Linked DNA regions of Homo sapiens: all the other regions are linked to region 1. The links come from fine-mapping of genetic effects on gene expression. A gene starts in region 1. Each other region holds a variant in brackets. All regions are shown on one strand. Distances are between the middles of the regions.

The links. PIP is the estimated chance that this variant, and not a neighbour inherited with it, causes the effect. A credible set is the group of variants that fine-mapping cannot tell apart.
Region 2: its variant is the best candidate, but not a certain one, in a credible set for the expression of VEPH1 in testis (GTEx, PIP 0.53).
Region 3: its variant is the best candidate, but not a certain one, in a credible set for the expression of VEPH1 in testis (GTEx, PIP 0.78).
Region 4: its variant is the best candidate, but not a certain one, in a credible set for the expression of VEPH1 in fibroblasts (GTEx, PIP 0.86).

What each region holds. Positions count from the first base shown.
Region 1 is chr3:157,498,782-157,506,422 of GRCh38, forward strand. It overlaps VEPH1 (ventricular zone expressed PH domain containing 1), which reads right to left and starts at 4,635. Exons shown (of 14, transcript NM_001167912.2): 1 at 4,496-4,635. RefSeq lists enhancers at 227-791, 792-1,355 and a silencer at 4,428-4,662.
Region 2 is chr3:157,428,545-157,436,185 of GRCh38, forward strand. All of the region lies in intron 4 of VEPH1 (ventricular zone expressed PH domain containing 1), which reads right to left. Among named protein-coding and RNA genes, the nearest start is that of PTX3, 4.5 kb to the right of the region's middle. The variant T/A (reference allele first, on the strand shown) is at 3,749.
Region 3 is chr3:157,401,950-157,409,590 of GRCh38, forward strand. All of the region lies in intron 6 of VEPH1 (ventricular zone expressed PH domain containing 1), which reads right to left. Among named protein-coding and RNA genes, the nearest start is that of PTX3, 31 kb to the right of the region's middle. The variant C/T (reference allele first, on the strand shown) is at 3,939.
Region 4 is chr3:157,558,219-157,565,859 of GRCh38, forward strand. It overlaps the pseudogene SLC66A1LP. Among named protein-coding and RNA genes, the nearest start is that of VEPH1, 59 kb to the left of the region's middle. The variant T/C (reference allele first, on the strand shown) is at 3,838.

The DNA.
Region 1 (7,641 bases):
GGAAGGTCAAAGCCAGATCAAATTCTACCTCATGTTCTGAGAAACTCCCTACCCTTATGAATGTCATAGTCCTGTGGCCTGTGTGCACGTGTACATATACATGTATCATGTACACACAAGCATACCATATACACACATGCACATATGTGCACATACTCAAAATACTTTCTACACATCAACCTTTTTGCTAGACACTAGATGCTTTCTTCTTTTAGTTCTCCCATCAACTCTGCAGGTAGATATTACCACCTAAGAGGAAACAGGACCAGTGAGGTTAAGTATCATGCCCAAGGTTACACACAGAGCCAATATTCACATTCAGGTAGGCCAGACTCCAAAATCTCATATTTTTTGTATGATTTTTAAAAGCTGGCTTATAAAATTCTTACAGCCTTTAATTTGCTTCCTTCATAATTTCCTTCCCTAATCTTTAAGGGGTTCTAATCTGAGGCCCACCTTCTCATTATTTAGTTTTTTTTTTTTTTTTTGGCAGGTATTTGCTGGCGAATCAGCTTTCTGTAGGGAGAAACAGAAACCACAAAAACAGAAATGATGGCGCAAAACGTGGCACATTTCAGGGAGTCACAGCTGTCCCGCGCAAACTCGACTTTACCTGCGTGCTACTCCTCAAAGGCGCCCTTGCAGTTACTCAGCTGCATGGTTTGAGACTGGGCGGGAGATTCAGGCAGGCTCCGAGGGCACAGCGAGTGGAATCCGCTCAGCTCAGTGAACCTGAAGTTGTTCATTGCGGAGCCGGTGCCGGGTGGAAGAATTCAAGGAATGCAGCCTGATGCCACCGGCAGCCCCAGAGACCGGTCAGGTGACAGGCTGCACCTCACCCAGCGGAGTTACCTCCCAGTGCAACGCTCTGTTTCCTGAGGTGAAACACAAAGCCTGCTCCAGTAAAGGAGAGTTGTTTTTAACAGAGAAAACAGAACTCCCTGTGTTCGTGAAAATCTATACTTTCCCAGGGAAGAATGGGGGGCGGGGGCGAGCCACGCAGGAAACAATTTTCAACAGAACTCAAGCAGGTGAACGGAATGGCTGTAGGGAGCCACCTCTCAGAGCTCCAGGGGAGGAGAAGAGAACTGCAGCTTCATTAACACTTCCCTCTCCCTGAGATCTCACAAACGTTTTGGAAACACTGAGTGTTCGTCCAGTAAGAGTCACCTCCTAAAGAAAGTATCCCTTTACTCTGCCTCTAGAGTAAAATTGTTGAAAGTTGAAGTATGCGGGAAGTTGCTAATAAACAGAACAAACTTCACAACATACGTACTCTCTTTTTTTCGTTATTTGCTGGGAAGCTATTCATAGAAATCCACGTGGACCAGAAATATTGGATTTGTACTTTTAAATATTGCAGCAACACTCAGGCAAAAGGTTTATCCTGCTTAATCTACTGACACTCCGATGGAGAAAAGGGCACTGGAACCTTCCTTTATTCTTTAAACAGTTAACAGTGCACTTTAAAAAGCAAGGTTTTTAAGACTGCATTCTTCTCGACCCCTAAGTCGTCTGTTCCTGTGGTAGATCTATAGCTATATCAAATCATCTCACTTCTGGCAATGTGTACAGGCAGCTATCCTGCAGATAATCTCATCTTTGTGCTCACTAGGGTGTGTCTACTCAAAGGGTGTGGTCAGGGTGGCCACAGTTAAACCAGGTCATATGTTCCAGGAGAACGACCTCGTAAATCTGCCTAGACAGTTGGTGATCAATCATATTTTTATGCCATCCACATTTGGAGAACTATCCCCTTGAAGAATTCCTTTATAAAAATCAAGAATCCAGTCATTCATGAGTAGCTGTATTTTTTCATTAGTAGTTTTTCTAATTTACAATATACTAATGAAGTTTCGTCTTTTAATGGAATAGATGATATTGCTTTAGCCTTCCCTTTTAATCCTCTATTCATTATTACTGATTTTTAATCCCTAGATTTTTATCCAGTTTTATTTTTTTAAAGGGTGTAGAGTCCTGAATTGGACACTCTATGGAACTCCAGTAAGAAGAGCAGAGTGATAAGAGTATGGGAATCTAGACTCAACTGGATTCCAAGCTCAGCTATGCCATTACCTGCAGTGTAAATGTGGGCAGGTTAATTAGACTCCCTGAGCCTGGAATTCCTCCTTTGCTCCTGAGGATTGTGATATGGGTTGTTGGGAGGTTTAAGGAGATGATATAAAACATTTAACACAGAGCCTGGCATATGGCAACCACAGAAAAAGTGCCAGCAATCATATCCTTAAGAGTACTATTATTCCTATAGATGGTCCACCAGTTAACACATCCCCATGCCATACCTTTTAAAAATTAATACATGACTGTACTGTTCACTAAATTGGGTTCACAGAGCTAAAGATGTTTAGGTTGTTTCCATTTGAGCCATATTTATATCTTTGTTGTCCTTTCTCTATCTTAGTCATCCTGTCCTTACCTCTGGGTTGTTCACTTTTCATCTGTAAACTTCATTCTCTTGAATGGGTCCCTGTTGATTTTTTGGCAACCTTATCTTGTTTCCTGGAGAGATAGTTTTACGGTGATCCTACCCACACCAAGGTTGAACAATAACAGTGAATGTTTTTACAGAGCAGAAATGGGCTAGAATACAATGTATCTCAAACTTTTTGTGGCTGGGTAATCCAAACACCTGAGTTTTCCATGGAAGTGTAGCACTCCTTCCCGTGTTTATTAGTGAGAAAGGAGTGGCCCTCCAGGGCTCCAGCTACTTTCTTTACTACTTTTCAAGGTGACGTACACTCAATGCCCACTAATAAAACATTAGTGGCTTACTCTATTATGCATCTGTAGATTCTGCTAAATGAAAATATACATGAACTGGAGGACTTAATCGCCACACTATTGGGATACTGCCTATAGAATAATTGAAACTCTTGGGGGAGATTTCAATCACCATAATTAACTCAAGAAACCAACTTATTCTGAAGAATTCAGCCTCTAGCTTGCAACTTAGGTTAGGGTATACCCTGGCTTCCTCACTTCAGAAAATTCTAGAATGACAATATTTATTTACATTACGCTTTAGACTACATTACTCTGCATCAAAACATTTTCATTTTATTCACCTGTATTAAAAATGCTCATTAACAAACTTAGACCCATTTGGGCTCTAGAAACTTTCAATAAAGTTCTCAGATTTTTCCCTTGAAAGAAAGGATTACAGATTCTTTTGAAGGAGCATCTTTTTCACACAGCGTGAAAGGACTACAGGCGTTCCCATGGGAATTGGCTGCATACATTTCAGCCCTTCCCACAAGATGTCTATTGTTCCCTGGATGTCTCTGGGCTTCCTTGGCTGTGGCGTGCTGCTACACTTCACTTCTACTGAAAGCCTCTGAGTCTGGCTTATTCTAAGCAATGCTAAAGGCTTCAGCCCTGTCTTTTTGCTAGAGTACATACGATCTAAGTTTGTAGCAGGCTTATTTCATAAGTACATGAAAAAAATAGATTTGGTGACCTATTTAGTCAAGAGCCCAAAAAACTACTTAATTTTGATTACCTATTTCAACTTATTAAAACACAAATAGGAAACATTTCCTTCAAAAAGGATGAGAAACACTTATCTTCAAGTCTAATAAACTTTCTAAAATCAAGGCTTTTGTGACTTGTCATAATTTTATAGTGTATTCATTTTCACCTGTAAATGTTGACTTTGTTGGTCATTTTTGCTCTGGAATAATACAAATCTTGCTGAAAAATCCTAATTCAAATTCGTGGGTTTGTTCTTCCAGAAAATGTACCAAAACTCTCAAACTACATGGAAAACTCAATGTTAAATGTATCTTCATTTACATTTAAGTTTCATGTACCAAATATCTATATGACCAACTCAAATATTTCTCTAAATATTTTTTTCTGCTTTTTAAATCAAAAATATATAAATGTCATTTAATCCAATGGTTGATTACTACAACAATTTAAGTGTGTATCTGAAAGAGTAAAAAAGTGGTTAGATTTAATTATGATTTGTAAGATATCTGAAACACCAAAGGAAAAAACGGCAGCAGCAACAAACAGTAATGGTGACCCTGTTCAACCCACTGACTGTAATGATGCTATAATATTTAATTTTCTTTGAAAATCCGTAGGCAGAGCCAGTTTCTTTGCTGGTTGCAAAATGTTGATTGAAGTAAACAAAAGTATAAAATAGAAATGAGACTAGATTATTACGGAGTAAAACAAAAATGCACATGATATGAATCTAGAAGCACAGCTTTCTGCTCCTGAGGCCTAGAGACATGTTTTAATAACCCACAGAGAAGTGGCATTTTTACTCTAATAACCGAAATGCCTGCATACATGGCTAGACACACAGCTCCCAAATGTGCTTTATCTGCATAATCAGCCAGCCCCTGGAAGTTTCTCAGCTCCATTCTCCTATCCCCCACTCTTTGCTTCTTTGCAGCCTCTGACATTTACTTTAATTAGCTTTTGTTTTTGCTGAACAAAAGGTCATGAAAGAAGATAGCCATACCTCTTTGCACAGGAATCTCTGGTCATAGAAAATAGAAGGCAAAATCCTTGATCTTTAGAGCACTGCAGCTGGGACCCATGACCATGCTCAGAGGCAGCCTTGCAGCTGCTGCCCAGTCCTGTGGGCTGCAGCCGCGTCTCCCTGAGCTGCCTGTCAAGCCAGTGGTACATTTCATTCCCTCCCCATTGACTCACCGTGCGGAATCAGGCAAATGAGTAACTTTTCTTCTCTCTCCCAAACTTCTGCTTAGACCTAACAATTGACGCAAAGCTTCACTTATTTCTACACTAGATTTACAGATTTCTCTGAGCAGATCTGTAGTTTGAAAGAATTAGATTTGCCTAACAACCAGTAATTTAGGTTCTGTTAATGAATAACTCACTTTAAGAAATCAAGGAAGTTTTAGGTTAATATCAGATGTGGGGCCTTTTAGCAGGCATCAGGAAAAAGGCTTGGGGAGGGAATGCAGGAAGGGAAGCACTGGAATGAAATGGTATTTAAGCCAAATATGATAGAAGAAAAATACCACAAGAGAAGCAAAATAGCTAGGGTAAAGGAGCAAAAGTCTAATTATACTATTGGTATTGCTTACGAAACACACAACAACTTAATGAAACTTCCCTGGTAGCACTAGAGATTTTTCTGAACCCTCATGGTTCCTTCTTGCATCCACTCAAATTTCTAACTCCTTCCTTTTACCATCCAAATATAGAACTCATCTTTTCAAACCTAATTCATTGGGGATCCCTCACAAGCACTCCCACATCGCCTCATCTCTCTCTCTCTTTTAAGGAGAATGCACTTTAAAACCTCTAATGCATAAATTAATTGGTGGTGCCCAGTGGATTATTATATCTAGAGGCTCTTCTCTCCCTTTAAGTGTATGGCATGGGCTTTCTTCCCTTATTGATCTGAGGTTTTGCCTTCACATAAAGTGATAAAACATTTCTGAGTCTCTCCCGACCGGAACTTTCAGTCAAACCATGTGAGGGTAACAGGGAGGGTGGGGGCGGGGGCTGCAGTGGGGAAAGTCAGGTGTAAGATGTACAAGTGGAAATAAAAATATTTCCATTCAGTGGCAATCATGCTGCATGTAAAAAAATTACTAGTCCAATTAAAAGGACTACTCATGGGGTGAAGATTACTTTCTCTTGTGTTTGACACTCAACATTCACTTACTCTACTTTTAGTCAAAACTGCACCCAAATTTCCCTTGGGAAACCATGTCCTTTGGGTACAGCTGATGCCCATAAACAGGATGGGCCTTAATTGGTCTTACCCAAATTAGAGTAATTGCATTCCTGTGATCATAGTGACTAATGCAGGGCAGGTGTGCGACCCCTTCTAGGCCAATGAGAGGACAATGATGAAAGCTCAGCTTTGGGAGTAAAAAGTCTAAGCTGCTGGACTTGATGATAAGAAGGTGTAAGGTCTGGCTGCTATTGCCCTCTTGCCACCAAGAAAACTGTTGACTTCATTTGGGCCCCTTAAACCACCTGCCCCTAATGCTAGCAAGACCTACCCTTCAGTGTACACTAATAAATTCCTTAATAGCTTAAGTGATTTTAGATTGGGTTTTCTGCCATTTACCATTAAAAAATTTCCACCTGACAGAATCAGCCTAACCTAGTTTTGTGGGAAGTCTCTCCTGGGTGCAGCTCATTGAAAATTAAGTGGACTAAGAGACTCAACAGGAACTATCTATGACAAATGGGCTCCTTCAGTGACAACCACAGGCTTCCTCTGACAACTAGCAGATGCAAGAAAGGCCTGGAAAGGAATGTAGTCATTCAGTGTACCTGAAAACAGGACCTTCTAAATTATTTTTTCCTAACCAGCTACATAGTCATTTCCTCAATACTTGAGTCCCCCAAAATAATTAAATTTAATCTCTTAGACTTGCCTGGCAGTACCTAGCCACATACCATTTGACCTCAATACCCTTGTCATGGAATCCATCCATTCATACACAATTTTCAAAAATTTCCTAAAATCACTTACGCTATTAAGGAATTTATCAGTGGACACTGAAGGGTGGAGCTTGCTAGCTTTAGGGGCAGCTGGTTGAAGAGGCCCAAATGAAGTCATCAGGTTTCTTGGTGGCAGAATGGCAACAGCAACCAGATATTACACCTGTTTGTCAAAAATGTATTTGAGTAATCAGTTTTACAGAGTATTGCTTTGTCTTTATTTTTCCCCTCTGTTCTTGTCTAACTCTCACTCCTTCCCCTCCTTTGGGAAACTTGAAATAAAACATTGTCTGTAACCACAAAATCAGACAAAGACGTTTTCTTTACAGAAAAGAGGTAAATTCTAAGGCAACTTACATAGGTGAGTTACATATAAACACTGAGAACTTCTGAATGATTTCATTTTCTATAAACAGTTTTTCTTACCTGTAATCATGAAAGCTCCTGTAAGCACACCATTTCTATGGTCAGCCTTCCAGCTTTGAAGAGTCCATTGCAGGCACAAAAACTCAGACACAGCCAGGAACTCCCTTTTGGCTCAGCAAAATAGCATGTGGCATGAACTATGACAGTCAAGTTTCTTTCTTTCTTTCTTTCTTTCTTTCTTTCTTTTTTTTTTTGAGAAGAAGTCTCGCCCTATTGCCCAGGCTGAAGTGCAGTGGTGCGATCTTGGCTCACTGCAACCTCTGCCTCCTGGGTTCAAGCAATTCTCCCACCTCAGCCTCCCTAGTAGCTGGAATTACAGGCGCACACCACCACACCCGGCTAATTTTTTTTTTTTTTTTTTTTTAGTTTGTTTGTATTTTAGTAGAGACAGGGTTTCGCCATGTTGGCCAGGCTGATCTCAAACTTCTGACCTCAAGTGATCCACCAGCCTCAGCCTCCCAAAGTGTTGGAATTACAGGCATGAGCCACTGCACCCGGCCAAGAGTCAAGTTTCTTTAAGAACAGGAATAGGGCCCTATGGCTAAGGTTTATTCATTTTTTTTCATTATAATAAAGAACATTTTGATAAAACATGCTCCCAAATTAAAGAAGACTCATTATTCTCCCAAACTAGCTCCTCCTTCCGTGTTTATTTTGGTGAGGGCCCTCACCATCTACCAAGTATACAAACAGGAAAGCTGAGTGTCATCCTGTATTTCTCCCCTTCCTTTTCTTACCCACATCCAGTGA
Region 2 (7,641 bases), 70 kb before region 1:
TAACATTATTACCAATGTAATAATATTTGCACTTACACATTAAATAGCACAGACTGATGGCCAATTCTTTTGCTAAAAATAACATGGTACCTTATTCTGAGATTAAAATGTGATTTAATCCGATTCCACAAAAGGAAATATTTTATGATATAATCAGCACCATTAACTAATGAAAAATTTTGCTAAGTAATGCACCATGGGGATAGAGGAACTTTGACAGTAATCAGACCACACCCTTGAGAAGGAAACAGTTCCAATAAAGAATTCCTGATGATAAACAAAATTTAAACGATGTTTAAATGAAAACTAAGCAGTGCTGTAATCATGGACCTAAATGAAACTGAACAACAAAAAAAGTGCAAAGGAATGAATTCACATTCCTGGAAGACACAGAATCATAATTTAGACAACTCACATACAGAAACTATGCCTTATTTTATGAATAGTTTAAGAAGTAGTAATGCAAATTTAAATCCCCAATTTCTGCACTATTTCAAGGGAAGTTTAGCCTCAGCTGATTTGTCACACATAATTTCCTCAAAGATATGTATAGACAACTAGATTTATAATGGCAAAACCTCAAGAAAACTATTACATAACGTATAGAAACTTATCTGCAATCAACATATGGGCAACATCTGCTTATCACTCTATGGTATAGATTTTTTTTCTCAAAATCCTCACAAGTACTTAAATGTCTCAGGGGAATTGGTTTCTAGGGATTTTTTGAACAAGAATTTTTTTGACTCTACTTTTACTTTAAATTTGGCTTTGTATATAGAAGCCATACACAGAAAGAATCAAATAAGAAGGAATTACACATATATGGACCTTCATTAAATGGTAGGAACATGCCTATATATAAAAGACAATTTAGATATGATCATTAAAGAAAGAAGGCCAGAATTTTCAGAATATCAATATCTAAATTTAACGAAAGCGTGATTCTGGATAAAACTGAATGAATTGAATGAATTTGGGAGATAATAAAAAATGAGAATTGTTTTTTCCACATGTAGTTCATAGAATAAGTCTAAAACAGGTTTTATCATGTTCCCCAGAATACAAGTTGTTGGAAATATTTAGAGTTTTCTTTTAAAAGGTTGTGTTCGTCAGTATTTATTTTCAATAGTTTAATTTTCAACAATTTGTTTTGTTTTCTGTTTATTTTACTATGAGCGTCTCCTTAAAAGATCAGGAATTTTTTAATGCAATACCCAATTTGTAAAGCCCAAGTTAGATTATAGAACTTAGTTATGAGGACATACTGATCAACTGCTAAAAATGGTCACATTAAAAGGGACTGTAGTTGCAGTCTAAGACAGGAAACTGTTGCATGGCATTTCGGTACAAAACTCACTACAGAGGCCCTGGGAGCCTTGAAGGGAAAAACCCCAGATTAGTCATTTTTCAGCTGACTTGAATTTCAATCAAATAATACAAAAAACAAATGCAGAACTTTTGCAGAAATCTTATAAATTCCATTAGTCAATAATACCTTCTTTTAAATTATGAAATAGTTCAAGTCATCAAACAAATGTAGGCAATAATATAAGGAACATTGGTGTGCCTACCAACCAGATTTGTCAAAACTTAACCTTATATGATAATTGCTTTTCATCCCATTTGTTTCCTTTTCTCCCCAGAGGCAACCATCATCCTAAAGGGAGTATTTATGATCTCCATAAGTATTTTTACACTTTAATTACATGCGTATGTATCAATAAACATTATATAGTATTGTTTTGGATGCTTTAAAATTTTATGTGAATACCATCATACTCTACACATCCCTTCGCAACATATTTTTTTCCTATTCAACATTTTGTAGGAGTTATATCTCCAAGAAGCTCTCCTTCATTTACTCTCACAGCCATGTGTTATTCCAGTGTATAAATATGCAACAACTTATTCATATACTCTCTGTGATTGAAAGACATTATGTTGTCATTATTATTCATTGCCTTAATCAATAATGCTGAAATAACTGTCTCTTTGTGCAAAAATGAGAGATATTTCTTAGGGTAGTGCTTCTGAGTCTAATGTGCTTAGAAGTCACCTGGGCATATCTTTAAAACACAGATGTTGATTCAACAGGTTGGAGGTAGGGTTTGAGCGTCTGAATTTCTAACAAGCTCTCAGGTGACACTGATGGTCCATTGACCAAATAGTTAGTTAAGTGGCAAAGCACTGAGTATGTCCCTAGGAGTTGACTTTGTAGATGTTCCAAAATTTCTTTGTGAAGCAGTTGTATTCATTTTCTATAGCTGTTATTAGAAATTATCTCAAAATTAGTGGCCTAAAATAACACAAATTTATTATCTTATATTTCTGTAGTTCAGAAGTCTGACATAAGTCTCCCTAAGTTAAAATCAATGTGTGCCCAGGGCTGGGTTCCTTCCTGGATGCTCTAGGAGAGAATTTGTTTCCTTGGCTTAACCAGTGATATGCTTTGGCTCCGTGTCCCCACCTAAATCTCATCTTGAATTGTAATCCTCACGTGTCAAGGGAGGGACCTGGTGGGAGGAGGTTGGATCATAAGGGTAGTTTTATCCATGCTGTTTTCATGATAGTGAGGGAGTTCTCATGAGATCTGATGGTTTAAAAGTGGCAGTTTCCGCTGTACTCTCCCTCACTCCTGCTGCCATGTAAGACGTGCCTTGTTTCCCCTTTGCTTTCCGCCAGGATTGTAAGTTTCCTGAGGCCTCCTCAGCCACGTGGAACTGAGTCAATTAAACCTCTTTTCTCCATAAATTACCCAGTCTCAGGTAGTATCTTTATAGCAGTGTGAAAACAGACAGATACATCCAGCTTTTAGAGGCTGCCTGAATTTCTTGGTTTGTGGCCCCTTTCTCCATCTTCACAGCCAGCAACATGGCATCTCTCTGATCCCTGTTCCTTCATCTCATCTCTCCCCTTGATTCTCTCTTCTGCTTCCCTTTTCCACTTTTAAGGACCCTTGTGATTGTATTGGGTTTAACTGAATAATCTAGGATTATCTCCCTATCTTATTTAGCAACCTTAATTCTATCTGAAATGCATATTACATAACATGTTCACAGGTTCCGGGGATTAGAACATGGACATCTTTGGGGGACCAGTATTCTGCCTACCACCAAGATTATGACAATCTACTCCCACCAGCAGCATGAGTGTTTCTGTTGGTCCACATTCTTGCCAACATTTGGTTGTGACAGACATCAGTGTTTGCTAATCTGATGGGATGTATCTAATATTTTTGCTTTAATTTTCATTTCCCAATTACTTGTTATATATTATATATAACAAATTATATATATACATATATATATAATTGTTTCTGAGATGGAGTCTCACACTGTTGTCTGGGCTGGAGTGCAGTGGCGTGATCTTGGCTCACTGCAACCTCCGCTTCATGGGTTCAAGTGATTCTCCTGCCTCAGCCTCCCAAATAGCTGGGATTACAGGTGCCTGCCAACACACCCAGCTAATTTTTTTGTATTTTTAGTAGAGATGGAGTTTCACTATGTTGGCCAGGCTGGTCTCAAACTCCTGACCTTGTGATCTGCCCGCCTCAGCCTCTCAAAGTGCTGGGATTACAGGCGTGAGCCACCACACCCAGCCCTTTTCATATATTTATAGGTGATTTCCTCACTTGTGATTTGGCCATTCACATTCTTTGCCTATATGCTATTAGGATGTTGCCATTTTTTCTTATTAATTTTTAGAAGTTCCTTAATTATTCTGAGCTACTGAATGAATTTTTGAT[T/A]TATTGATTTAAAATTATATTCTTAATATAGTCAACTGTTTTCATTTTTTTACTTCATGGTTTAGGTTTTTTTGTTAGAAATTTTTCTGTATTCCAGGGTCATAAAAATATTCTCCTATATTTTCTCTTAAAGGCATTATGGTTTTGCTTTCTTGTAGTTGTCTTCAATCTGTCTGGAAATGACTTTGGTACATAGGAGGAAGAAGTTTAATTATATGTTTTTCTTTGTATACAAATAATTTTTTCTATTGAGTAGTCAATTGTTACTCTTCTGATTTGCCACACCTCTTTCATATATTAGGTTTTCCATATGTGTTTGGGTCTGTTTCTGGGCATTTATCCATCTCTTCATCAAGTCTACATTTTCTTAATTACAATAATTTTATAATAAATCATTATATCCCATAGGACCTACTTCCTGACCTCCTACTTCTTCAAGCTCTTCTTGGCTACTCTATACAAATTTTAGTATCAGTCTGTCAACATCCTTGAAAAACCAGACTGGGACTTCTTTTTCATATTGAACATATTGACTAATTTGGCATAACTGACATCTTCGTAAAACTGAGTCTTCTCATTTAAGGAGATAATTTATCTTTCTGTCTATGTAGATCTTTTTATGTTTTTAAATAAGGTGTTATAATTAGCTTTGTCTTATGTTAAATTGTTGCTTAGGTATCCCATAGCTATTTTTGCTACTGTAAATGAAAACTTTATTTGCAAAGGCATTTTCAATTTATCTGCTGGTATTAATAAAGCAATAGATTTTTGTATGTTGATCTTATATCCAACAAAAGTTGCTCAGTTCTTATTAATATGTCTTTTGAGTCTCTTAGATTTTTCTTTATGTAGATGATCCACTCATGATAAATAATAACAACTTCATTTCTTTCCATCCTAATCCTTATGTTTCTTCTCCTTATGTCCTTATGTCCTACTTTATGGGCAGGGACTTCCAATACACACTTTGATGAATAGAGTCACTGTCCACGGGTATCCTTGTGTTAATCCTGCTTTTCAAAAGTATGTTTCCAAGGATTTACAATTACATATGTATCTGTTTCTATAGGTTTTGGTATTTATGTTTTTTTCAGTTTAAGTAAGTTCCTGTCTGCTTTCTAGTTTGATTATTTTGAGTGCTGAATTTTATCAAACATTCTTCTCATCTATTGATATGATGATTCTTCTCCTTTAAACTGTTAATGTAATAAGTTAACAGCTATTCTAACATTTAATCAATCTTGCAGTCTTGGAATAAACTCAACTTGCTTATGATATATTTTTATGCACATTGCTGTGCATAATGTGTATTTTTATGCATATTGCTGTGTTTGGCTAATACTTTATTTAGAGCTGTTGCATCAACATTCTTAATGAGAGAGATTGCAGTTTTCCTTTCTTGTATTGTCCTTTTCTCTTTTTGGTATCATACTTAGTAGACATGTAAAATGAATTTAGCACATTCCTGAACACTCTATTCTCAGAAGCAGTTTGTACAAAACGGGGATTATGTGTTCCTTGAATGTTTGGTAGAACTTGTCCATCAAACCATCTGGGCAGTACTCTATATACTTCATTATATCAAGCTTTAAGTTATGTAGTTTAAGTTTCTGTATCCTTTGGCAGGCTTTTTTTTCGCATTTGAATGATCAGTTATGATATATGTGAACTTATCAGCTTTGTTAAAATCTCCCTCCATGATTATGGATTTGCCCATTTCTCCTTATAATTCTGTCAACCTTTGGTTTATATTTTTTGAAACTATATTACTAGATAATTCAGAGATATCTTCCTGTTAAAGTATTTCTTTGTATCATAATTTAACTATCCTCTTTTGCCTAAGTCTATTTTTTACTGATATTACTACTGCTATGCTAGCTTTTTTGAATAATACTTGCTTGGTGTGTTCTCTTCCTCCCCTCCAATTTAAAGCTTTTAACTTTTAACATTTCTACTTTATGTTTTATGCATAGCTTTTGTAAGTGATGTATAGCTGGATTTTTAAAATATTTCTTCTCTCTCTCTCTCCTTTTCTTTTTTTCAGGGTCTCTTTCTGTCGCCCAGGCTGGAACGCAGTGGTGTGATCACAGCTCACTGCAGCCTCCACTTCCCAGGCTCAAGTGATCCTCCTGCCTCAGCCTCCTGAGTAGCTGAGACTACAGGTGCATATCACCACACCAGATTAATTTTTAAATTTTTTGTGCAGATGAGGGTCTTGCTATGTTGATCAGGCTGGTCTCAAACTCCTGGCTTCAAGTGATCCTCCTACTTTGGCCTCCCAAAGTACTGGGATTCTGAACGTGAGCCCCGACTAAAATATTTCTATATGACAAATAGAAATATTTGTCTCTTAACTGGAAAATGTGTTTCATTAATATTTATGGTAATTATTGGTATATTTTGATTTAATTTTAGCAAATAATATTGTACTTTTAACTTATCCTTCTCTGTGCTTTTCTTTCCTCCTTCATTAATTTTTTTTTCATAGATCAAGTCTTTCTTTAAAAATTCCCCCTGCACCTTCTATTCGGATGCCTATGTCCATTTGGTAGTTGTCCTTAAACTTATAACAAATATTTTTGAGCAAAGCAAAATTAATTAATTTCTTTTTCGTCCTCCTGAACAATGAAATGATTTTAGAATCCTATTACTGAACATAAAAGCAGCACATTTTAGATTATTTCCTTATATCTGTCTTCCAGTTCATTAATATTCTTTTCAGCTTTGCCTAATTTGCCACTTAATCCATGCCTTGAGCTTTTAAAATTTTCAATTAACTTTTTTTTTTAATTCTAGAAGTTTTATTTGGTTCTTTAAAAAAAATCACCTAGCCTTTTTCTTTTTGACAATGTCTTATTCTTTTCTCATATTTCCAATTCCTTCTTTTAGAGCTTCAGTAGTTTTAAACATATTTATTTTCTAGTTTTTTGGCTGATATTTCAACTAAATGCAGTTCTTGGGGAGAGGTGTCTAATCCTTTTTGGTTTCTGCTGATTCTCATTTATAGTGGTTTGCTTCCTCATATGTTCAAATATCATTGTGAATTCTTTTTTGTTTTCACAGTGGCAGATAGTATATATTTGAATTCTAAACATATCTGAGGGCAGGCCCAATTTCACAAACTCAAAGGGACCTTGTAGAGTTCAAAGAGAGACATGATTGCTTCCTACCTCTTTGTGCTAGGGCAGAGTGGGATTGTACCTACTGAAATACAGTAGGTAACCCTGTGAGGGTCCTGGCTTTCATGAGGATCTCCCTTCTAACTCTCCACCTTTGGCCTAAGCTTTGCTTCCACATGGTCATCAACATTTGGTGGTTATAGAACTAATAACCCCTATCTCACTTCACTCCTATGCCAGAGGGGCCCTAGCATCAGCTCATGGGATTGTTGTTTTTGCTTTCCTCTCTATCTTTGGCTCCGGGATTTTCCCCTTACTTTAATGGGAGCTCATCTGTACCTTTTAAGTTTTTATTAATATCATGTGAACACAGACCTGTATATATTGTTAGAAGCAGAAATCTCTAAGTTTACTTTTAAAACATGATCCTTGCCTCGAAACCTTGTAGAATAATATAATGTCCACATAATACCAAGTTATGAAAAGAAACATACCTAAATAACTAAATAAGTATATTCCTTTTTTCCCCCAGCTTTTTTTCCCCATTCTAGGTTTACCCAGTTGTACTGTGTTGTTTGTCATAGGCCGGGTGAGGTGGCTCACGTCTGTAATCCTAGCAATTTGGGAGGCGAAGGCGGGTGGATCGCCTGAGGTCAGGAGTTCGAGACCAGCCTGGCTAACATGGTGAAACCCTGTCTCTACTAAAAATACAAAAATTAACTGGGTGTGGTGGCGGGTGCCTGTAATTCCAGCTACTTGGGAAGCTGAGGTAGG
Region 3 (7,641 bases), 97 kb before region 1:
TCCACTCATTTGTAGCTCCCCTTTATGTAAATGGTGGAAATAGAGTAAAACAGTTTAGGACTTTTAGATAGGGTTATGTTGAGATCTTAACAATGGTTTAATCTTGCCATTTTTCAATAGAAGAACAGAAGAGTCACTTCACTGTATCTATAGTGCCTATTATGTACATTGTATGGGATGCTCAAATCCATGCATCTTGCCTTTGAGGTTATTCTCACTTCATAAGATGAGGGAAGGTAGAATTGTTTCCTTCAGGGAACATTTGTAACTTTTGCTGTTGCCCCTCTATCACTCTCTTACCCCCTAGCTTTATTTTGTATTTACTAGCCAAGAAGGAGGAGTTGGTAGACAAACAGTGCTTTAGAAATGTGTAGCTGTCATGGAGAAGGTGGGCTCTGGAAACTCTTCTGGATGAAGAAAGGAAGATTTGAATGAGATAGGAGCCCTTATTGTGGGAGAATGCTGCCTAAAGCGGAAGGAAGTTTGCCCTCTTAAAGCAGAAGGCAGCAGAAGGAAGAGCTGGAGAGAATGTAGACAGGAGTAGGAGTTTAGTCTAATCCAGAGATTTAAAAAATCAACCACACATAGTAAATAGAGATTTCAATGAAGCAAGATGGTTAGAAAGGTTTATTTTCTACTTTTCTGAGTGAATTGTTAGATGTTTAGACCTTTATAGGATCTATACTGCACTGAAGGTTGGGAAACATTACCCAGACCACTTTCATTTACTCATCAACAGTTATGGAAACATTTATTTTCTATTTATCTCATATTTATTAATCTTAAAAAGCAATAAATAATTATTCATTTACTTTATTACTTAGCAAGAAATAAACTGATGTCAAGATACCCTCTCAGTGTAATTTCTTACATGTTATCTACATGAATACACGTAGATGACAGCAACCATCTGGTTAATATTATGATCTATACCTGTGAACATTTTAGTGTGATAGTGTATTGTTGCTAAGCCAACTGTTAGATGCATATTTTCTTAGAGGGCTTCAGCTCTGTTCATGTAAACCAGTACCAAGTTCCTAAGCCCTACTCACTACAAAATAAATTCAGGCTTTACTTTTTTGATAAATAATGAAGAAGGCTGAAATGTAAATATAATTTCAAGACAGTATAGTTAGTCATGGCTTTGCAACAAAATTCATCTACTTCCAATTACTCTCCTCATATATTTTGAGAGTACAATTGTTACACGATTTTACATCATAGTGATAATACCTCTGTGTCAAATCCTATAGGGAGTTCTGGGAATGCTTTCAGATCCTACTTGAGCTACAAAAAAAAATCAAATAACATTAAAAAATAAAAACAAGAACTTAAGCAATAGAAAAGACTTGTACATACCCACCTGTGATATTCCGTGTAAACCATTATTTAGGAACACCCTCTCCCTTTATACAGGAGTGGGGATGGAGTGAGGAATTCTAAGAATATTACACAAAAGTGTCAATGCATCACAATTTTTGCCTATTAAAGGATCTTTTTTTTCTTTTATTTTATTGTGATACTGGAATATAGTGGCACAATCATAGCTCACTGCCTTGAACTCCTGGGCTCGAGTGAGTAAAGTATCATTTCTAAGTGAATAAAAAAGCCCCTTTTTATAGCAGAGGGATTGGATTTTATTTAACTTTGCACTTGCATACAGTGCCTTGCATACAGCAGGTGTGTGATAAATATTCATAAACTGTATTGTAGGTAATGCATGATATTTCCTGACTTCATGTATATACTGACATTGTCAAAGATTATGACTGTTAAAGGTTACTGATTATTTACATAAAAACAAGTGGGTCTTGCAAAGAAAATTGGGTATAGCTGTGTGTGTGTCTGGAAACATATATGCATCAAGCAGGTAGTATATATGCGGGCATGTCTAGACTCCCTCAGGTTCTATAGCAGATAAATCCTGTAGGGCCTGGATCCTCAGGAGCAGTACTACTTACACTTTCATGTGCATACACACCACCTGGGCATCTTGTTCAATTATGGATTCTGATTTAAGTTTCTGAGTAACACTCAATGCTGCTGGTCCGGACACTTTGGGGACCACATGGGATGGAGACCGACAGATCCTGAAAAACCAGTATCCATAACTGTTGACTGGAACCCAATGTCTCTAGTTTTCCTGACCTCCTCAAACACAACCTGCCATGTCATCAGATGCCATCTACTAGTACAAGACACTGATGGTCAGCCAAGTTTCAGTCTCTATGGAACAGTTAGTTGGCAAGTACCTGTGAGCCACCTGCTATGAGCTAATTACTTGAGGGGGGGTTATGCCAGGGCCACGAGGAGGTATAAGGTATGGTTCCTTCCTTCAGAGTGCTTATGGTGGGTTGGGAGTGTGTGTATTCATGCACTAAATAAATGAAAAGCAAATGCAACCAGAAAACCATCAGATGCTAAACTCTGTGTTATAGATGTATGTTCTCAAATATTCACAGCAGGGCAGATTGCAATGGCTTGGGAAAGTCCTAGAAATGTCTTTGTCTTGGATTGGGGTTTCCAGAAACAGACAGACCCTGAGATGATTTAAGTGCAAATCATTTATTTGAAAACTTCAGGAAACCAATAGGGGAACAGAAGAGTGAGAAAGAGAAGGGAAACAGCTCAAAAAGTAGCCTGGGAAATTCTAGGGAGAGTTTATTTCATTTGAGGGGTAAAGGAGTTTTGGAAGTTTACAAAACACCAACTCCCATCACTGGTTGTAGGATGCCATGGGACAGCATTCATTCCTCACATGCATACGCCATGTGTCTTAGCAGAATGGCTTGTGAAGTTGGGGAAGCCATAGGCAAAGAAATGCAAATACTGGCTGTTGGAAATAGTTGGAAGTCAAGTGATTTCAGTCTGAGGGCTACAGGCAGGGCAAGGACCTGCTATCATCTTAAAAGAGCAGCAGGAGTTGAGCTGGAATTAGCAACTGCTTCGTCCTCTTCAACTCACCTGCTGCCAATGCCCAGTTGTCCTTTCTGGTGAATCTGAGATTTGTTCACTTGTTAGGCTCATGGCTAGAAAGGGCACTTACTAAGTGGTGGCTTCCTGTCTTTCTTGAGGCAGGCACCTACTTCCCTCACAGACACCAGTGTAGGAAAGTCAGATCGTCCTCCTCTGGAAGGAGGAAGATCAAGTCTGCGGGGACCAGGCTGCCGATTTCTGGAGTTTGATCCTGGTCTTGCAGACACTCCTTCTATGTGCAGCCATGTTATGGGACTTGCCAAACTGTCCCAGCTCACAGGGAACTGCAGGTCTTCTGTGGATTTGGTCAGTTGGCCCAAATTACAGTTAATAATTACAAGACATTGTTGAAAATTTTTGCAACATGTAACTTTTGTAACCATTATTTACTACTCTACATTTGCAAGTATTTTGGGAACTGTTTGTCCTTTCGCCAGCTCTTTAGTTTCTTGGGAACGCTAAGGTACATAGGATTACATTTACTTATCCGCACTATGAAGGGAAATAAAGTACTGTTCCTAGAATCAGCTGAGAGAAGGAAGAAAACAGGAACTATCTGCTAATCAATATGGAATTTTCATAATCTGACCCCAGCCCACTGTCCAGCCGCATCTCTCCCCCTCCCCTCCATTATTCATCCTATGCTCCAAGCACTTGAAATGCTTCATGGTTTCTAGAAGACTCACAGCCTTTTCCTGGCTGACTGCCACTGAATGCGGTGACTTCCCCATGGATACCTTCTTCCTATTCCCCTGACATAACCCTATCATCTTACAAGCCAAACTTATAATGCTCTCCTAAAACTCCCCCACATGGGGTTAGTTTCTTCCTTCCTGGTCCAGTTCAAAATTCAGTAACAGCAAGTACCAAATTAAATTCCAATTATCTGTCTTTACATCTTCCTCATCCCCAGTTGTGAGATCCTCTAGGGCAGGGACCATGTCTTTCTCTCCTCTGTGTCC[C/T]CATCACCAGTACTGGGTCTTACAGTTAGAAAGAATCAGCAGCTCCACCCTATATCACTGAGGGAGAGAGGATATGCAACATCAATACTCTTATTTGAAAGTATATTTTGTATGTACTCAAAGTTTGCCTTTGTTTTCCTTATACTTTGTAAGAGGTTTATTACTAATATTATTTACAGTTAACATGTACCCTTTTTAACAATACAAACAAAAATAAAAGCTATTTTCATTTTGGAAAAAAATCCTTCCCCAATTCATGACAGTTTTATAATATTAAGTAGCAGCCACTGGCACCAACCAAGGTTTAAGAAAATGTATCCCCAAAGTCATTGAACCTACCAATGTTTTAACTAAGTTTATCATCCCTGGGGAAATTGTGCTTTTAAGTCACAGGTCCTTCCTCTTGTAGAACGGACCCCAGATTTTTTTTAGTCTTGATTTGTAATTTAAAGGTGTAAATCATCCACCCAGCTCCCATTTCTCAGGATGTTATTCAACAGCCAGGATGAGGACAGTAATGTGGCTCTCAGCTGCCTTTGTCATTCTTTTCCTTTTCCTCCTGAAAGTGTTTTTGTAGGCCTGCCGGATGTCACAGAAATGCAACCTGGGCAAGATGTGTGTCACTTCTTTACTTGAAAAGTGTCCATGACTCTGAGCCCAGAGAGGATGTAATGAACACGCCCTGGTGCTTGGCCAGCATATTCCAGCTAGTTAGAAAAACAAGGCAGAGGGCACAGGATTTAACACACACGATGGCAGTGGCTGCACTCAGGGGCATGCTATTTGATTCTTCACAGATGCGGGCTATTGGTCTGTAGTGAAGGAAAAACAAGTGGCCATAGCATCCTTCCACGTGCTATGAGATCATTTGTAAAAAAAATTTTAAAGCATCTTGTCTCTGTTTCTACCACTAGGTCTACTGCCTTGTAGGTCTGGCACAGAGGAGGGGCATGGTAATGAAGTGCATGCTACATACTGGTATGTGCTTTCCAATAAGACCAGACCCTAAAGTAAAGTAAAGATGACTATTAAACTAAAATTTGTTTCAGTTCACTTATTTGAGGCTTAAATAGATGGAAAGATACATGAATTCAAGTTGGCCTCCCAAAAAAAAAAAAAAAATCAATGCCATTCCTAAAGTGTTCTCTTTTCCAAGTTGACCCATGTTAGGAAAGAGGGCTATAATAACGATAATACCTAACAAGTGAGCAGAGACCACTTGCGTGGCTAAGAGAGTCTAATTAGGGAAGGAAATAATGAAAAAGTAAAACCCTCTAAAGTGGAAACAAACATTCTATTTTGGTCCTCTGTGGACGAGAAACATCAACCTAGTTTGGGTTTAACTTAAACCACTTCATATTTAGTTTAAGAGTTTTTAAAAAATTGCTGCAAACTTATTTGAGCTGTTTATATAGCTGGGGAGGTGGGGACCACCTACCCTTTATGGAAAGCAATGTACTTCCAGTGGCCCAAGAAAACAAGGCCTATTTTAAATTATGAAGGTTTACAAAATGAGGTTTATTATTTTTGTTATCCTTATTTCTCCCACGAATGGTGGTCTGCGATACAAATGTAAAACAGATATACATTCCACCCCGAGGAATAAAAATTTACATACACCAGTTATTTCCTAAAAAAGAAAAATTGTGTAGCCAGCTATGCTTTCCACCTTTAATGTACATGTGGTTGTCTACGGTGCCTCATTCCAATTCTGTCTCCTGATTTTGACTGGTCCCACATATGCCTACCCATTCAGCTGCTTTCCTTGGAGAAGCAGAGGCAAGGTAAGCCATTTCCCTAGTTTTCACCTCCCTAATTTCAGTCTGTTAGGGTCAAGTTTTAGCCTGTATACAAATAAGTGCAATGAGAAAGACTTGGACAATGCTGAGTAAAGTAATAAAGTGCTGGCATTTATCAAATGTTTACTATTTGCTAAATACTGTTCCACATGGGTTAACTCATTAAATCCTCACAACAAACCTAAGAGGTGAATAATATTCCCATTTTACAGATGAGGAAACTGAGTCAAGAGAGGTGATGTAAGTTGCCCATAGCTGGTGAGTGGCTGAGTCAGGACTGAAATCAAGGCAGGCTGACTCTAAGCACACCCTCTTAGTCACCGTGTTACTTTTGCCCTCATCGTAAGCAAATCCATTCATGTAATGGATTCTTGCACAGAGAGTTCCTTGGTGGTGATCACTGCTCAGTCTACAGTGGTGAGTGCTCCTTCTTGGAGCTGTACTTCAACCAATTTGCAGCCTGCTGAGGCCTCGTATATGAAAATCTCTTTATAATCTACTCAGTATCATCTTTCATTTATGTCACCTCCTAGCAGCCATTATGGATGGCCTTGGCTCATCACATGTTTGTTGTATAATGACTCCATATTCCCCTGTCAACTTTATTCTCATCTTTCACCTGCTAGATATCAGAGATAGATTGTATAAGCTCAGAAGTATACAGCCCTCTCCACACTAATATTTCCTCCTCCTCTCTCTTAAGTTATAATTATGTCATCTAGAATAAGTAGACAGACTTGATGGAATCAAAGTTCAAGTGAGAAATCAACCCTCAAATTCTTAATTACCAGTATTCTCAAGTACTCATTCAGTCTTATGGCCACAGATGAATTCAGATGGATTTGATAATATTTATTTCCCCTGGAAGCTGAGAGGTATAGGGAGGAGAAAAAGACATTAACCTGCAAATTGCAACACGACATAATTGAGATACAACCATGACACATTTAAGGTACAACCAAATTACTATGGAAGTATAGACTGGGAGTGACTAACTTTGCCTAAGGGGACTGGGAAGAACTCACAGAAGAGGCAACATTTGAGCTGGGTCAGGTAAGATAAGTAGGAGAAGAGGGTAAAAGCTATCCAGGCAGAATAAGCTGTGAAGGTCTCAACGTATGTCAGAGTAAAGGGTGTGCAGGGAAGGGTGTAAAATCCTGAGTAGTCAGAATGTAGGGGAATGAAGTAGACTGGACAGGTAAGAGGTGAAGCTACAGAAGGAAGCTGGGGCCATGCCAAGGAGTTTGCATAATAACCCATAGGCAGTGGATGAGACCACAGAAGACTTTGTGTGAGGAAGTACACTCACACTTGTATTTTTCCCTCTCTCGTTGGCCTCTCCAGCTAGACAGGTTTCGTTTATTATATTGCTGCTGTTACTTTGTTGTTGTTAGTTGAAATCCATCAAGCATTTTTTTTTAATATGCCAGGAACTGTGTTAAGTGTTTTATATAAACTGCTGGATGGTTGTTTGGGGAATGAACCCTTAGGTGCTACTAAGAAGTCATTTCTGCTCTTGTCTGAAAGGTTTCCACTGCAACCTTCTCATTTGAGAAAGACAAAATGACCCATGTATTTTTGCTGTGTTTTGGACATATTTAATCAAATACTATTTCTTATTTATGAATTTACTTCAACTGAGCATACCAGAGAAATGGAGCAAATCCTGGCATTATAAAGAACTGGATAGATCTTTACTGAAAGGTGCACCTCAAGGGCAACAATTGATCGGTTCTCCCAGAAGCAAATTTCTCTACCCTGGAAGTGTTCTGTGAGTCATTCATGGCCTCCACAGTGACACAAGCACTATATGATTATTAAACATGGCTTTATTTAAGTTTGGGCAAAAAGATTTCTGAGTTAATCTGGGAGATAGAGAAAATAAGAATCTGTAGGATTTTGGT
Region 4 (7,641 bases), 59 kb after region 1:
ATATTTGCCAGTCATATATCTCATAAGGGTCTAGTATCTATATTACATAAAGAACTCTTACAACTCAAAAAGAAAAAGACAGACAGCCCAATTTTTAAATGGCCAAAGGACATGAATAGATATTTCTCTAAAAGAATATACAAATGTTCAATAAGCACTTGAAAAGATATTCAAAATCATTCATCATTAGTTATTAGGGAAATGCAAATCAAAACCACAATAAGATAGCATTTCACATCCACTAGGAAGACTATAATTTTAAAAAATGGAAAGTAGCAAGTGTGGACAAAAATGTGGGGAAACTGGAAACTCTACTATTTGGCTGGTGGAAATGAAAAATGGTTTAGCGACTTTGGAAAACATTTTGATTGTTCCTCATAAAAATAAGTAGGTTTACCATATGACCCAACAATTCCACTCCTGGATATAAATGCCAAAGAATTTAAAATAGGTGTTCAAACAAATCTATGTACATACATGTCCACAGCAACACTATTCACCATAGCCAAAAGGTGGAAACAACCTAAATGTTCAGCAACAGATGATGGATAAACAAATTGTTGTGTATGCATACAACGGGATATTATTCTGCTATAAAAAAGAATGAAGTGTTGATACATGCTACAATGTAGATGAACCTTATCAGCATTATGCTAAGTGAAAGAAGCCAGACACAAAATGTCCCATAGTATATGACTTTATTTATATGAAATATTCAGAATAAGTAAATCCATAGAGATAGAAAACAGATTGGTGGTTGCCAGGGGCAGTAAGATGGGGAATTAGGTATTACTACTTAATGGGCATGGAATTTCTTTTAGATGGTGAAAATATTTTGGAACTAGATAAAGAATATAGTTGCCCATCGTCATGAATGTACAGGAAACCAGTAAGTTGTACACTTTAAAATGGCTAACTTTACATTATGTAAATTTTACCTCAATTTTTAAAAATCTACTTAGGAATGATTCTCATGTACTAAAATGCACCCAATTTAAATGCATGTCAATAAATTTTGACATATATACAATTTCATGTAACAACCACCTCAATCAAAATATAGAACATTTCTATTCACCTGAAAAGTTTCTTTGTGCTCCTTTTCAGTCATACTACCACCTTGAACTCCTAGCCGGACAAACACTGATCTTTTTTTCTCACACCATATATTAGTTTTTCTTATACTAAAACATTTATAAATCAAGTATGTGCTTACTTTTTGAAGGCTAGCTTCTTTCACAGTATGTGAGATTTGTCCAATTTGTTGATACATCAGTAATCCATTCCTTTTTAATCCTAAACAGATTCCATTGTATGACTAAGACACAATTTTTTTACTCAGCTATCTATTTGTGTTGTTTCCAATTTTTGGCAATTATGAATAAAGCTTTGATGAACATCTGTGTACAAATCTGTGGTTGGTATGTTTTTATTTCTTTTGGGTAAATTCCTACAAGTGGAATTGCCAGATCATAAGGTAAGTATATATATGTTTAGCCTTTTTTTTTTTTTTGTTTGAGTCAGAGTCTCATTCTGTTGCCCAGCCAGGCTGGAGTGCAGTGACATGATCGCAGCTCACTGCAACCTCTGCCTCCTGGGTTCAAGAGATTCTTGTGTCTCAGACTCCTGAGTAGCTGGGATTACATGCATGTGCCACCAGCCCAGCTAATTTTTGTAATTTTAATAGAGACAGTGTTTCGCCATGTTGGCCAGGCTGGTCTTGAACTTTTGGCTTCAAGTGATCCACCCACCTTCGCCTCCCAAAGTGCTGGGATTACAGGCGTGAGCCACCATGCCCAGCCTGCTTTATTTATTTATATTTTTAAGCCAGCCTTTTTTCTGAATACTTGAAACATTTTACACTCCATCAGTTGGGTATGAGTGTCATATGTTCCAAATCCTCACCAAGAGTTGGTATGATCAGTCTTTAATTTTAGACATCATAAGAGGTGGGTAGTTGTATCTCATTGTGGCTTTAATTTGCATTTCTATAATGTTATATGATGTTGAGCTTATTTTTACATTCATTTGCTATCCATATGTCTTTGGTGAAGTATCTGTTCAAATTTTTGGCTCATTTTACAATTTTTTTTTATTATTGAGTTTTAAGAGCCCTTTATATATTCTGGCTACAAGTTCTTAATTAAATATGGGATTATTCAAATATTCTCTCCCAACTTATGGCTTGTCTTTTCCCTCTGTTGAAAGTATTTCAAAGAGCAGATGTTCTTAGTTTTAGTGAAGGCCAATTTATCTTTTTTTTCTTTTACATTGTGCTTTGGTGTCTTACCCAAGAAATCTTTGCCTAATTCAGCATCACAAATTTATTACTCTGTGTTTTTTTTCTAGATGTTTCATAGTTTTAGATTTTACATTTGGCCTGTGAGGTATTTGGAATTAATTTTTGTATAGAGTATGAAGTATGGATGGAAGTTTCTCTGTGTATAAAGTATCTGGGTTATTTTTTGTTGTTATTTTTCCTGGCAGCTTTTAAGATTTTTTCTCATTATTATTTTTATTACTGGGTTGTAGCATTGTGATTTTGATATGCCTTAGTATGGTTTTCTTTTATTTTACTGCTTGCAGTTTTTTGGTTCTTGAATTTGTGGATTGACATTTGTAATCATGCTATTGTAAGAGATATTGATACTTTAATTTCAATTTTCAATTATTTGTTGCTGGTGTGTAAAAATAAAATTTGATTTTTATATATTGATCTTGTACCCTGCAATATACTAAACTGACTTGTTAGTTCTAGTAGTGTTTTCATAGATTCTGTAAGTTTTCCTTCAGAGAGAAACAAACCCATTGTCTGTGAACAAAGACAGTTTACATCTTCCTTACATTCTGTTTGTCTTTAATTTCTTTTTTTTTGTGTGTTATTGCCCTGACTCCAACCTCTGTTACCATGTTAAATAGAAGTGGTGAGACCAGATTTCCTCACCTTGTTCCTGATGTTACAGGGAGCAGTTTTTTGTATGGGCCTAATTTTGCCTCACTATTAAGGCAAAACTTTTCTTAGTACTCTACCCAATGTGTTGTGAGTTATTAGTTTTTCCAGTCTGAATAGTGAAAACAGGCACTAGTCCTGGCTCTGCTGGAGATCCAGAGAGTTTTCCTTCTAATCTTTTAGGATGTTTTTCCTCTTGATCTTAGGTAGTTCCTTTACATGGATATACTGATAAGTATTTAGTTGATGATTTGAGAGGGATTGTCCAGAGGTCTCTCTTTGTGCAGTTCTATCCTTGCTGGTACTCTATTCTGCAAACTCTAGCTCTGTGGCCTCCCTGAACTCCCAGTTCTTTCTCCTCAGGGCGATCTCCTGACATCCTGGCTTTCCAATATTTGTAACACAACCTTAAGACTCTCTCCAGGCAATAAGTTAGGGTAATCATAGGGTTCATTCACCTCCTTTGTTTGAGGTTTCTCTGGGTTCTCTGTTCTTCATTGCCTGATGTCCAATGCCCCTAAATCATTGTTTCATATATTTTGTCCATTTTGTGATTTCAGGCATGACGGTGAATGTAATCCCAACTTATCACTGTTGAAAGCAGATGTCCCAAATATCTTTTGTTATTTCTTTCTCATTTATTTTTGTTGTGGCCAAAAAACATAATCTGTATTATTGTGATACTTTAAATTTATTGAAACTAGTTTTATGCCCTATCATGTGATTTCTCTTGATGAATGTTCCATTTACTTGAAATGAATGTATCCTCTGAACATTATAATGTGTGTAATGTTCTATAAATGTCAATTAGATCAAGCTGGTTGATAGGGTTTTTTTGTGCCTTCTCTACACTACTGTTTGTTAAGAAGACATCCTTGCTGAGTCAA[T/C]AAGAAGTTAGCTAACAGCACTGTTCCATCAATCACTGAGAGAGAAGAATTGAAATCCTGAATATAGTACTGGATTTGTCTTATTTCCCCTTTTAATTCTTTCAGTTTTGCTTCATATATTTCAAGTTTCTATGTTAGGTGCATAGACAATTAGTATTGCTATGTCTTCTTGAGGAGTTGACTTCTTTATCATTATAAAATGTCTCTTTTTTCTTTAGTAATATTTATTGTTCTGAAGTCTACTTTTTCTGAGTATTATAGCCAACTTATTTTTCTTATGATTTGTATTTTATGGTACACTTTTTACAAAATCTTACTTTTAACTTTTTTTTTTTTTTTTTTTTTACCATGTTTGTATTAGTCCTTTTTCATGTTGCTGATAAAGACATACCCAAGACTGGGAAGAAAAACAGGTTTAACTGTATTTAAAGTTCCACATGGCTGGGGAGGCCTCAGAATCATGGTGGGAGGTGAAAGGCACTTCTTACATGGTGGCAGCAAGAGAAAATGAGGAAGATACACAAGCAGAAACCCCTGATAAAACCATCAGATCTCACAAGACTTATTCACTACTGCAAGAACAGTGTGGGGGAAACTGCCCCCATGATTCAAATTATCTCTCACTGGGTCCCTCTCACAACATGTGGGAATTATGGGAGTACAATTCAAGATGAGATTTGGGTGGGACACAGAGCTAAACCATATAATTCCACCCTGGCCCCATCCAAATCTCACGTCCTCACATTTCAATACCAATCATGCCTTCCCAACAATCTCCCGAAGTCTCAACTCATTTCAGCATTAACCTAAAAGTCCACAGTTCAAAGTTTCATCTAAAGCAAGTCCCCTCCACCTATGAGCCTGTAAAGTCAAAAGCAAGCTAGTTACTTCCTAGATACAATGGGGGATACAGGTATTAGGTAAATACGGCTGTTCCAAATGGGAGAAATTGGCCAAAACCAAGTGGTTACAGGGCCCATGCAAGTCCGAAATCCAGCAGGGCAGACAAATATTAAAGCTCCAAAATGATCTCCTTTGACTCCACATCTCACATCCAGGTCACACTGATGCAAAAGGTGGGTTCCCATGGTCTTGGGCAGCTCCGCCCTTGTGGCTTAGCGGGGTAAAGCCTTCCTCCCAGCTGTTTTCACAGGCTGGTGTTGAATGTCTGTGACTTTTCCAGGCAAACGGTGCAAGCTGTCAGTGGATCTAACATTCTGGCATCTGGAGGATGGTGACCCTTTTCTCACAGCTCCACTAGGCAGTATCCCAACAGGGACTCTGTGTGGGGGCTCTGACCCCACATTTCCCTTCTGCACTGCCCTAGCAGAGGTTCTCCATGAGCGTCCTGCCCCTGAAACAAACTTCCACCTGGGCATCCAGGAGTTTCCATGTTCTGAAATCTACGTGGAGGTTCCCAAACCCCAATTCTTGACTTCTGTGCACTCTCAGGTTCAATACTATGTGGAAGCTTCCAAAGCTTGTGGCTTCCACCCACTGAAGCCACAGCCTGAGCTCTACGTTGGCCCTTTCAGCCATGGCTGGAGTGCCTGGGATGCAGGGCGCCAAGTCCCTAGGCCACACACAGCACAGGGACCCTGGCCCTGGCCCAGGAAACCATTTTCTCCTAGGCCTCCAGGCCTGTGATGGGAAGTGCTGCTGTGAAGATCTCTGACATGCCCTGGAGACATTTTTCCCACTGTCTTGGGGATTAACATTTGGCTCCTCATTACTTATGCAAATTTCTGTAGCTGGCTTGAATTTCTCCTTAGAAAATGGATTTTTCTTCTTTCCTTTTTTTTTTTTAAGACCGAGTTTTGCTCTTATTGCCCAGGCTGGAGTTCAGTGGTGGCACGATCTCGGCTCACTGCAACCTCTGCCTCCCGGGTTCAAGGGATTCTCCTGCCTCAGCCTCCTGAGTAGCTGGTATTACAGGCGCCCACCACCACGCCACCTGGCTAATTTTTTTATTTTTAGTAGACACGGGATTTCATCATGTTGGCCAGGCTGGTCTCAAACTCCTGACCTCAGGTGATCCACCCACATTGGCCTCCCAAAGTGCAGGGATTACAGGTGTGAGCCACCATGCCCAGCTGGATTTTTCTTTTATATCACATTGTTAGGCTGCACATTTTCTGAACTTTTATGCTCTGCTTCCCTTATAAAACCGAATGCCTTTAACAGCACCTAAGTCATCTCTTGAATGCTTTGCTGCTTAGAATTTCTTCCTCCAGATACCCTAAATCATCTCTCTCAAGTTCAAAGCTCCACAAATCTCTAGGGCAGGGGCAAAATGCTGCCAGTCTCTTTGCTAAAACAGAACAAGAGTCACCTTTGCTCCAGTTCCCAAAAAGTTCCTCATCTCCATCTGAAACCACCTCAGCCTGGACCTTATTGCCCGTATCACTATCAGCATTTTGGTTAAAACCATTCAACACGTCTCTAGGATGCTCCAAACTTTCCCACATCTTGCTGTTTTTCTTCTGACCCTTCCAAACTGTTCCAATCTCTGCCTGTTACCCAGTTCCAAAGTTGCTTCCACATTTTTGGGTATATTTTCAGCAATGTCCCATTCTACTGGTACCAATTTCCTGTATTAGTCCAATTTCACACTGCTGATGAATACATACCCAAGGCTGGGAAGAAAAAGAGGTTTAATTGTACTTACAGTTTCACATGGCTGGAAAGGCCTCAGAATCATGGTGGGAGGTGAAAGGCACTTCTTACATGGCAGCGCCAAGAGAAAATGAGGAAGATGCAAAAGTGGAAACCCCTGATCAAACCATCAGATCTCTTGAGACTTATTCACTACCGTGAGAACAGTATGGGGGAAACCGTCCCCGTGATTCAACTTATCTCCCACCAGGTCCTTCCCACAACATGTGGGAATTATGGGAGTACAATTCAAGATGAGATTTGGGTGGGAACACAGAGCCAAACCATATCAATGTTCATGTTTTCTTGTAGCTTCTTCAACATATGGAATATATCTATAACAATTAAATGCATGCTAATTTCAACATCTCTATCATTTTGGTGTCTGTTTCTATTGACTAATTTGTTTTTCTTCATTATTGGACACATTTTCCTGCTTCTTTGCATGTCTTCAATATTCAGTTGGATGCTGGACATTATGCTCAACAATGTGACAGTCTTCCTTGAAAACTTTAAGAGTATTGGTGTTTACTTGGGCAAGCAGCTACCTTATTTGAAAATAAGTTTGATAATTTTAAGGCTTGTTTTTAAACTGTGTTACAGTGGGTCTAGCATAGCCTCTACAGCTTGTTTACCCTTACTCTGAAGGCACAGTCTTTTTGGGTGCTTTATGAATGTTTCTTGTCTTCTAAATAATCTCTTTCCCCTGCCTGTTCAGAACTCAAATGTCTCTTAGTCCTGTGTGAGCCGTAGTAGTTTTTCTGTTAATAGTACCCCGGTAGCTTTTCTCTCCCTGGTAGTTGTTTTTTGCCTGACTTAAAGGAGTTTTGCCCTACTTTGCCTTCCTATTCAGCCAAAGGCACAGGTAACCTATGTGCAGATTTCTGGAGTTCTTTTTTGGAGCTTCCTCCTCTTTAGAACTCTGAACTATAATTTCTGTTTCTCACTCTCACAATGTTTTATTTATTTTTTTTGTTGTAAAAATCACCTCACATAAAATTAGCCCTATTAATACATTTTTAAGTGTAAAGTATTTTTAACTATATGTGCATTGTTGTACAGCATATCTCTAGAACTTTTCCATCTTGCATTGCTGAAACTCTATATCCATTGCACAGCAATTTTCCACTTCCCCCTCCTCACACCCTT